Linked DNA regions of Homo sapiens: regions 1 and 3 are each reported to be linked to region 2. Evidence: microRNA targets listed by miRTarBase, many of them from high-throughput screens and not tested one by one. Region 2 holds a microRNA gene; each other region holds the end of a gene's coding sequence.
What was found. Region 2 holds the annotated microRNA hsa-miR-148b-3p (UCAGUGCAUCACAGAACUUUGU, at 1,359-1,380, shown strand). A microRNA usually pairs through its seed, bases 2 to 8, with sites in the 3' UTR of a target mRNA and lowers its output. Matches are read on the target gene's strand: a 7mer-m8 pairs with bases 2 to 8, a 7mer-A1 pairs with bases 2 to 7 and ends in A, and an 8mer does both.

Region 1 (3,255 bases), not on the chromosome of region 2:
GGAGGATGAGGAGTCGGGGTCTGAATACATTTAATTAAATTAATTAATTAATTAATTAATTTGAGATGGAGTTTCACTCTTGTTGCCCAGGCTGGAGTGCGATGGCATGATTTTGGGTCACTGCAACTTCCATCTCCCACGTTCAAGCGATTCTCCTGCCTCAGCCCCCTAAGTAGCTGGGATTACAGGTGCCCGCCACCACACCTGGCTAATTTTTGTATTTTTTGTATAGGTGGGGTTTCACCATGTTGGCCGGGCTGGTCTCCAACTCCTGGCCTCAGGTGATCCACCTGCCTCGGCCTCCCAAAGTGCTGGGATTACAGGCATGAGCCACTGCACCCGGCCTCACTAGATTTTTATTTGACTGAGTGCCACCCCAAATGGAAACAACGAGGGTGGTCTCTTGGTTGTTCTTTCATGCCCTGCCCACTGCCCTGTTCCTTTGTCCACCTGAGGCCCCTGGTGTTGAGGCTGCAGGAGTCTGAGGCCAGGGCCAGCCTGGTGCTGAGCAGCTGATGGTGGGGTGGGTGCTGGGGACACTCAGCTCTGGTTCAGCTCCCCTTTGTGCTGTCTTCTGGGGTGGGGCTAAAGGCTTCTGCCTATGTCCACATCTACCCCCATGCCCAGGCCTCCTCTGGGGCCCAGAGGCTCCCCCTGCACCAATGGGCAGTGGCCTCCCAGCACCCCTTTCTGGCAGCCTTGGCTCTGCTCCTCCGAGGCCAGCTTTGTGCACCAACGGGCCCCGCCGAGTGGGCAGCTTCTCGCGTTCCCGCTGCAGCTCAGTAGGCTGGGCCCAGATCCAAACAAGGGGCCGGAAGCTGGGCAGCCATGGGAATGCCAGGTGCCTCCCACTCCCTCCCATCCCAATGGAGCTGCTCCTTCCCCAAGCCTGGCACCCATACAGCGGGCACTAAAACTCTACCCAGCCTCACCCTATAGCCTGGAGCTCCCAATGGAGGTGGGGTGGGGGGTGGCATCCAGACCCTCATCCTAAGACAGCTCCACTTAGCTCCTTTACAAGCAGGCACTGGCTCTGGGGACAGGTTCTTCCTGAGCACCCGGGACTGTGACCCACAGGATGACCCCTTGGAGAGCTCACGCAGACGCCAGAGTTGGGGCCGCCCAGCGCACACCCCCAGCACAGACGCTTCTGGGTCTCGGGCTGCAAAATGTTCTCCCCCGGGCAGGGGGCAGGGCCAGCGGCTCCTCAGACAGAGCCGCATTTTTGCTGCACGTGCAGGGTCATGTCCACCGCCAGGGTCACAGTGCAGGACGTTCCATCGTCACCAGGGCCCCTCCTGGTGCCCCTTTCTGGCTGACTTCCTACCTTCCATTTGTAACCTCTGGAAATCACCGACTCATGTCCCCCTCTGCGGTTTTGTGATTTCGAGAGCATCATACAAATGCAGTCGTTTTCACATCTCTGACAGAGGCCCAACCAACAATCACTTTTAACCCACAAAGTCACCGCAGATTGGCTGGTACCTCCCTTTTATTCACCAAAACATGGAGGCGGGGGCGCAGGCACCTGCCTCAGCTGTGACATTGTTGATCATCTTCCCCCAAAGGCAGTGGCTGAGCCCAGGGAGGGGACAGGAGGGGAGGGGCAGAGAGGGGAGGGACAGGGAGGGGAAGGTCAGCGAGGGGAGGGGCGGAGAGGGGAGGGGTAGGGCCTTGGTTGCCGGTTGCCATCTCATCTCACCCGCATCTTGGGGCCACCACGCACCACAGGTACATCCACTCCTTTACCCTCAGGAACCCTCGTGCAGAAATGCAGAGGTGCCTTCAGAGGCGTATCTCTGGGAGGCTCAGGCTCTGGGAAGGGAAGGGGGCCCTGGGGGTTTTTACTGGGCTGGGACCATGTCTGAGAAGGGAGGGGCAGCTCGGAGAAGGAGCCTGTGGTGACCTGAGTGGTGTCCCTCAAAGGACATGCTCCTTTCCTAGTGCCTGGAGCCTGTGAAGGGCATCTGATGGGAAAGGGTCTTTGCAGGTGTGAAGTTGAGGTCTTGACGGGAGATCATTCTGCATGAAGATGGGCCCGAAATCCAATGACAAGTGTCCTTAGAAGAGACAGAAGAGGAGACACAGACAGAGGCAGAGGCTGGAGTGACAGCCACAAGCCAGGGATGCCTGGAGCCCCCAGCAGCCGGAAGAGGCAGGAAGGACCCTTCCCGGGAGCTGGTGGAGGGAGCACAGCCCTGCGGACCTCGGGTTTCAGACCTCGGGCTCCAGGCTGTGAGAAAGTAAATCCTGGTTGTCCTAGTCACCCGCATATGGTGACATCAGCCCCTGGAGACTCACACAGGGCCCCATCTCACTTCCTGCTCAGACCTTACCACCCTGGAAGGCCCCATCACTGCCCCGACTCCAGGATGCTTTTCACAGCATCTTTCACCAAAGCACCTTGTGTTCGGTTCCCAGACCAGGGGGAGGGATGGGCACCTCCTGGGGTGGGACCCCGCAGCCTCTGACGTTGGCCCCAAGCTCTCCCCATCCAGCCCCCTGCCCGTCCCGAGTCGCAGCTCACGCATGGGAGGCCTGGGCGGGCTCCTGTAATGCTTGGAGTAGCAGGGATCTGGAAGGACAGAGGGGGCTCTCAGCGCAGGGACAGGGACCCCGCAGGCACACCTCCCATCCCCACCCTGTCCCGGCTCCCGCTTGGTCCGGGAGCAGTGGGGCTGACCTTTGTTGGTCAAGTCGATGATATTTTGTGAGCCAAGTCCGTACTTTTCGCAGGTTTCTTCAAATCTGCTCAGGAAGGAGGGTTCCAGCTATGGGACCCGTGCTGGGAACAGAGTTGGTTCTGTGTGAAGCTGGGCCTTGCTGGGGGTGCTCAGGAAGTGCTGAGGCTGGGCAGGGGGTCACGCCCTGACCAGAGAGGGGCTTTGTGCCAAGTGAGATGGGAGGTGACAGATTGAAGCACCCAGCACCCTAACGGTGTGTCTGTGGGAAGGAATAGCCAACGGGAACCACCTCTCCAAACCCCAGGGCCACTGCGAGACCCTCCTCCGCCCAGGGTTGGGCCGGACTTCAGAGGAGGTGGGGTCCCCGAGGGGGTCAGAGGGGGACAGCGGAGGTACCATAGAGCGCCAGCGTGTGGGTCTCGGTCCCGTTCCTGAAGTTCTGGAGGTGGAAGGTGATGAACAGCCTGTAGTCAGTCTCCGAGACGGCCACTGTGTTCTGGCCCTCATCTGCGTGGAGACATGGCTCAGCGTGGCCTGGCCCCGCCACCCTCAGGGTCCTGTGACACGTGCT
Region 2 (3,255 bases):
CTCCTGCCTCAGCTTCCAAAAGTGCTAGGATTACAGGCATGAGCCACTGCGCCTGGCCTCCATATTCTTATTTGTGCTCTTTCAGCTCTGTAGATGGCATCCTGTAATTCCCTCCATAGAGGCTTCTTGGTTTTTTCCCCTAAATGAATCAAATAATTCATTATAGTTTCCAAGTATCCTCTCTACCTTCCCCAAACATATTCTCCCAGTCTTCTGGTGGCTTACTAAGATCTTACCCCAAAGAGTTCTCTTACTATATACATTGTGAACAGACTTAATTCACTTATTTTTCAGGGCCCATCTCTACTAGTTTGTCCTACAAGACACACAAATAGAGAGCTTTTGCCGGGTGCGGTGGCTCACGCCTGTAATCCCAGCACTTTGGGAGGCCGAGGCGGGCGGATCACGAGGTCAGGAGATTGAGACCATCCTGGCTACAGTGAAACCCCATCCCTACTAAAAATACAAAAAATTAGCCGGGCATGGTGGCAGGTGCGTGTAGTCCCAGCTACTCGGGAGGCTGAAGCAGGAGAGCTTGAACCAGGAGGCGGAGCTTGCAGTGAGCTGAGATCGTGCCACTGCACTCCAGCCTGGGCGACAGAGCGAGACTCCGTCTCAAAAAAAAAAAAGCTCTTATCCAGAGCTGCCTTTGAAAAATATTTTTGCTTATGACTGTAATCCTGTGGAAGCTGCAGGTCACCGAGAAGGCCCACAGGGGGCAGCACTAGGAATGACTCTTTCCCTCTAGTCCTCTATGCGCTAGGGGAGAGAGTTCTTGGAGATGTTGATGCTTTTCACCAGGCTTTAGAAGCCCCTGATTGAGGCCGGGCACGGTGGCTCACGCCTGTAATCCCAGCACTTTGGGAGGCCGAGGCAGGCAGATCATGAGGTCAGGAGTTCGAGACCAGCCTGGCCAATTTGGTGAAACCCCGTCTCTACTAAAAATACAAAAATTAGCTGGGCATGGGGGTGTGTGCCTGTAGTCCCAGCTACCCGGGAGGCTGAGGCACAAGAATCACTTGAATCCGGGAGGTGGAGGTTGTAGTGAGCGGAGTTTGCTCCACTGCACTCCAGCCTGGGTGACAGAGAGAGACTGTCGCAAAAAAAAAAAAAAAAAAAAAAAAAGAAGCCCCTGAGATCAAAGATTCATTTGCAGCAGCCTAGTTGCTTGTTCTGTGGTGTTTCACCTGTCTTGAGGACAGCATTCTTGTTTTCTTGATAATAAAAACATAAATACATGAAAATCTGTCTAAGTCACCCAATCTCCCACAAAACAATCTGCCTATACATCATTTCCAAGCACGATTAGCATTTGAGGTGAAGTTCTGTTATACACTCAGGCTGTGGCTCTCTGAAAGTCAGTGCATCACAGAACTTTGTCTCGAAAGCTTTCTAGCAGCTACCCATTTTGGGAGTGGGAGGGAAGAATAGACCTTTTAAATTCTTTCAGTGTGGCCCTAAGCTGATAAGGTCTTTCTCAACAGTCAGCATTTAATGTGTTACAAGGTCAAGCCTAGTCCATTGTCCTGGAAGCCCATTTCTCAGTAGCTGGGAGTTATTTATAAACTTGCCCTTTGCAAAAACTTAAAATGAAATTACATTATCAGTAATGACTTCTGGGGCCTTTAAACTGGCTAGTTTTATGGCATAGCCCTCCCCACTCCTGAGAGGTAAAAGCCCCAGGCTGAAGTGGAACCAGCTGCAGTCAGGAGGTGGCAGGAGAAGTAAAGAAGCTGCTGGCTCCAGCTGTAGCAGAATGGAGAATTGAAGCGGCATTTAAGCGCCTGCCTAAATTCTCAGCTTTATTTAGTATGCTTCCTCCTTTGGAAGTTTGAAATGACCAGCCTTTTCTGTAATGCCTTCTTTCCCTTTTGAGAGCTCCAGTAAGCTCTATGTCAAATCTAGTCTTTATCCTTGTCCTCCTTAGCCTGTCTTTTATTCTTCCCAGGAAGATCCAATGTTTCTATTTTTGGGGTTTCTTTGATAATGTCTTCTAGGAAGCCAGTGAAAAGAACCAAGAGCAGAACCCAGGGATATGTTCTCTCTTTGCCGGTGTGGCTGTTGTAGGCACTCACACCCTGTTGGCCACAAAGGACATTGTCTGACTCTCCCAGTTGGCTGGGGGCCATTAGGGCTTTGCTTTTCTTTGGGTTCTAGGGATGCCAAACTCTATGGCTGCAAGAACCAGTTTCCTATGCCAGGTTAATGCCCAGCTTAAACTAATGGGCAGCTCTCTAAAGTTGCTGTGAATGTGGATAGAGGAACAGAGCCAAAGATTTCCAGGAAAAGGTTGTGGGAAAAAATGATTTCGTCTAAATTTTGTTCCTTTTGGACTTCTTTTCTTCCATTAAGAAAACTCATTCCCATTGTTGTCTCCCTTTTGGAATTGAGGACCCAAGTTGTTATAGAACTGAGCCTGCTTTACAGGAAGATCTTTCTGTGAGGAATTAGGAGTTAGGAGAGCTGCTTCTACTTGTGACCTTTTAAGACTAGACTCTAGAGGACTTCCCTCCACTAGGCAACAAAGTTCTTTAGTTTGAGAGAGGAGTTACTCATGCCTTGTTTATTCCAGAGTGTTATATATACAGGATGGACATCTCTAAGGAGTGTTTATCAGAGGAGGGATAAAGTTGGTAGTAATATCACCCAAAGTGGCCACATCAGAAAATCCACTTATATGTGGAGGTCTAATTATAAGTAGTCCCTTAGATGCATACTGCGTCAAGGTATTTTAACTTTATTCTCAAACTTCCTTTATTCTCTGAATTATTCACCAAATATTGAGAGTTTAGTATGTGTCAGGCATTGTTCTGGACAAATGGGACAAACCAGCGAACAAAACAAAAATTGCAGTCCTCAAGAATTCAAGTAGGGAAAGCTTATGTTCCTCATCACCTTGTTGTCAAAAGACTGGGTTCCTTTTACTTCCATTCTGAACTGCCCTCCTCTGCCCCCGCAAACAGGGTTGATTCTTTGCATGGAACCATAAACCTCCTGAAGCCTCATGAGGCAATTTATGTTTGTAGAGGCTGCAGTTTCTGGGTTCTTGGCAATGATTTTTTCCTCCTCACTCTTGGATATCTGTCAAACACATACTTTTGTGTTTGGCTCCTGTGAGGACTGTGGGTTTCTTAAATAAGGCCAGGAAAGAGGTAGCAAAGCAACAGCCTTGTCTCAGCACAAGGGATATCAATGGTAAGTAATGTTGATTAGAAAGTCAAGGAATGTAGGTCGGGCGCAGTGGCTCACACTTGC
Region 3 (3,255 bases), not on the chromosome of region 2:
ACTCTTTTTTTTCCTCTAATTTTGGCCCACTCTGGCAGGTGAAATTGAGACAGAAGCACATTCCAAAGAAGAAAAAAAAGCACTGAGGAAGTCAGATGTGACTTTGGGTGAGTACCTTCCCTCTATGTTATTCCCTCATCTTTAAGTGAGAGTGATAATCACCGCCTGGCCTATTTCACATACTTTTGTACAGATCAAATAAAATAGTTTATGTGAAAGTATAAATGTTGAAGTGTCATTGAGAGGTAAGAAACTATTATATGGTTGTGGCCGGGCGCGGTGGCTCACTCCTGTAATCCCAGCACTTTGGGAGGCCGAGGAGGATCACGAGGTCAGGAGATTGAGACCATCCTGGCTAACATGGTGAAACCCCGTCTACTAAAAATACAAAAAAAAAAAAAAAATAGCCAAGCGTGGTGGCGGGCGCCTGTAGTCCCAGCTAGTCGGGAGGCTGAGGCAGGAGAATGTCGTGAACCCAGGAGGCGGAGCTTGCAGTGAGCCGAGATGGTGCCACTGCACTCCAGCCTGGGCGACAGAGTGAGACTCCGTCTCAAAAAAAAAAAAAAAAAAAAGAGACGAAACTATTATGTGGTTGTGCTGCCCTGCCCTCAGTATGTTGTGTAATAAATATAATAGGGGTATGAATAATTGTGCAATGAATACATCCTGATGGTAAAAAATTTAATGTACACACAAAAGGGGGTAGGCAGATAGGAGGGAAACAATATTGTAACATCCCACTGTACTATTGGTTCTCAACCCTACCTCCACTTTAGGATTGTCAGGAGAGCTTTTAAAATAAAAACATCCTAAATGCAATTCTATATCCTGGATTGGACCCTGAAGCAGACAAAGCACATTAGTGGAAAAATTCATGAAAACGGAATAATGTCTGTAGTTAATGGTAGTGTAACTATCCTGATTTCTTAGTTTTGACAAATGGCCCATGGTTATGTAAGACGTTAACATTGGTGTAAACTGGGCGAAAGGTATATAGTAACTTTTGTACTATCATGACAACTTTTCTGTAATTCTAAAATTATTCCTCCAAAAACTATTATTTGAAGCATAAAACAATTAAAAAATAAATATACCTATGCCTGTACATCAGCTAGATGGGGGAATCTGAATCCCTGGGGGAGAAGTCTGGACATATATGTATTTTTGAAACCTTCCCAGGTGAGTCTAATGTACCAGAAGGGTTGAAAGAACCACTGCTCTCTCATGTTCATTATACCATGAATGCCTGAGGGACTGTGACCCTGTCTTGTTCTTTGATATAGCTAGTACCTAGCACAGTGTCTATATGGAAAGCTTGTGCAAGTGTGTTCTTGCTGAATGAAACTTTATTTGCAAAAATATCCTTAGTCCTCTGTAATAACAGAAGGAAAAGTGAAAACAAAAAATACCAGGGTAGATTTTCAGACATCTTCCCATCCAGAACAGCTTCTATTCCTGCCCCGGTCTCTTGTCGTTTTCAGTTAATCTTTACCATTATCACCATATTTACCATATTCCTAAAATAGTGAAATTGCCATTCCATTGTTCAAAAATCTGACTTCATTCCCCATTTTTAACAAGTGATATATTTCTTGGTTAGGTAAGCAAAATATTCTATGCTCTAGTAATATGAGCTTTTCAGCATGCAAGCCTACTACTATTTCATATGGACTCTACATTAACCATAGTTTGCCTGCAGTTCTCTTGAACATGTTTTGAACTCACCCTTCTCTTTGTCACATACAGTAATGCTGCTATCCTCATCTATGCAAATACTTTCCGTCTTTCAAGGCTTCATGCCTGTGTAATTTTTTCAGGTCACTCCAGCAAAAAGTGAGCATTCTCTGTTTGTATCTACCATTCAAATGGCACCAGCCCTTACTATTTTCTTTTGTGATTATTTGTTTTCTGTTTTATTTCCCCATGAAACCAAATTAACCCCACCGTGGGGTGTTAGATAGGTCTTCTAACCTCCGCAATTCTTAACATGATGGTATCCACACAGTTAAGCATGTAATAATGATTTAATGTACATTGTGCACAAATACAATATTTAAAAAATAAAAATAGAAAATCAAAATTCAAATACAAAAGTAAACTACATTCATCACTCCAAAATATCTTTTAAGGAGAATTGTTAAAACTGACCAAAAGAGTCAACTAAAGCCTGAATAAAATTTTGATGCTACTGTTACATTAATAATTGAACAGCATTTACAAGAAAACTATATACTCCACAAAATGTATGTGTTCAGTCTTAGTCACTTATCTGCTCTTAAGACGTAAATAAATGTTCTTAGGGGGGAAAACCAATTATCCAGTCCTCCCCGCTTCCTTATTTGTCTGTTCCCACCACTATCCTCTCCCCGACCTATACATACATACACACACACACACACACACACACACACACATTCTAGCATGATATTGTCTATGTGGTAGAGCCTTAAAAAATGTTATTTCTTTCAGATATGGTCTACAAATAGAAAAAATAATATTAATGAGCATTGTCAAAAGTTTTACAATATTTTGAGAAAATCACGCATAAACTATTAAGCTGTATGTTCCATTGGACCACAACTTTATGGTTGAGCATTGTTAAAACAAAACATAACTATAGACATCATTTTCTGGATGACTCTCATTCAGAATTGCTGGTATTCCTGGCTCTTCTTTGGGTTTTTCTTTCATTTCTGTAAAATCAAATAAAATAAAAAATAGATTCAATAAATTGTATTGGGACAATTGACTCTCCATTTGGAGGAAGAAAAACTGCTTTACAACATACACAACAACAAACCGTAGATGGGGTAAATTTTTAAATACCATAAAGTTATAGAAATAATAGTGTTTTTAGTAATCTTAGGATGCTAAGCAGAACACAGAGACCAGAAACCATAAAGGAAAAGACTAGCAAGTTCGAATACCTAAAAAGTAAAATTATATATGGTGAAAACCACTATAAACAAAGTTAAACCAAATCAAAGACAACTGGAAAAATATTTGCAACATATACATAGTAAAAACTATTATTTAAAGAGGTTTTTTAATCGGAAAAAAGAAATAAAAAATGTTGAATGGGATAAGGATTCAAACAGGCAATTCTTAAAAAATTATATTTATAATAATCCTGAAAAGATGTCTAGTAACATTAATTATAAAAGGGGGTGATTAAGACCATTAGGTGTGTTTTATTTTTTAACCTATCACTTCTCAGCCTTTTGGCTAAGATCAAGTGTATTTTTTTTTTTTTTT

Region 1: miRTarBase lists LCN9 as a target of hsa-miR-148b-3p. The part of its 3' UTR that is shown has no 7-base or 8-base seed match.
Region 3: the mRNA of HEMGN is a reported target of hsa-miR-148b-3p. The part of its 3' UTR that is shown has no 7-base or 8-base seed match.

The regions. Positions count from the first base shown.
Region 1 is chr9:135,665,181-135,668,435 of GRCh38, reverse strand. It overlaps LCN9 (lipocalin 9), which reads right to left. Exons shown (of 6, transcript NM_001393661.1): 4 at 3,081-3,191; 5 at 2,684-2,748; 6 at 1,475-2,575. The coding sequence ends at 2,693. Among named protein-coding and RNA genes, the nearest start is that of LCN9, 3.5 kb to the right of the region's middle. RefSeq lists enhancers at 737-1,237, 1,238-1,738.
Region 2 is chr12:54,335,920-54,339,174 of GRCh38, forward strand. MIR148B (microRNA 148b) reads left to right here and starts at 1,297; the gene lies at 1,297-1,395. The region is part of intron 1 of COPZ1 (coat protein complex I subunit zeta 1); the gene reads left to right.
Region 3 is chr9:97,924,786-97,928,040 of GRCh38, forward strand. HEMGN (hemogen) reads right to left here. Exons shown (of 4, transcript NM_197978.3): 4 at 2,006-2,693. The coding sequence ends at 2,599. Among named protein-coding and RNA genes, the nearest start is that of TRMO, 3.9 kb to the left of the region's middle.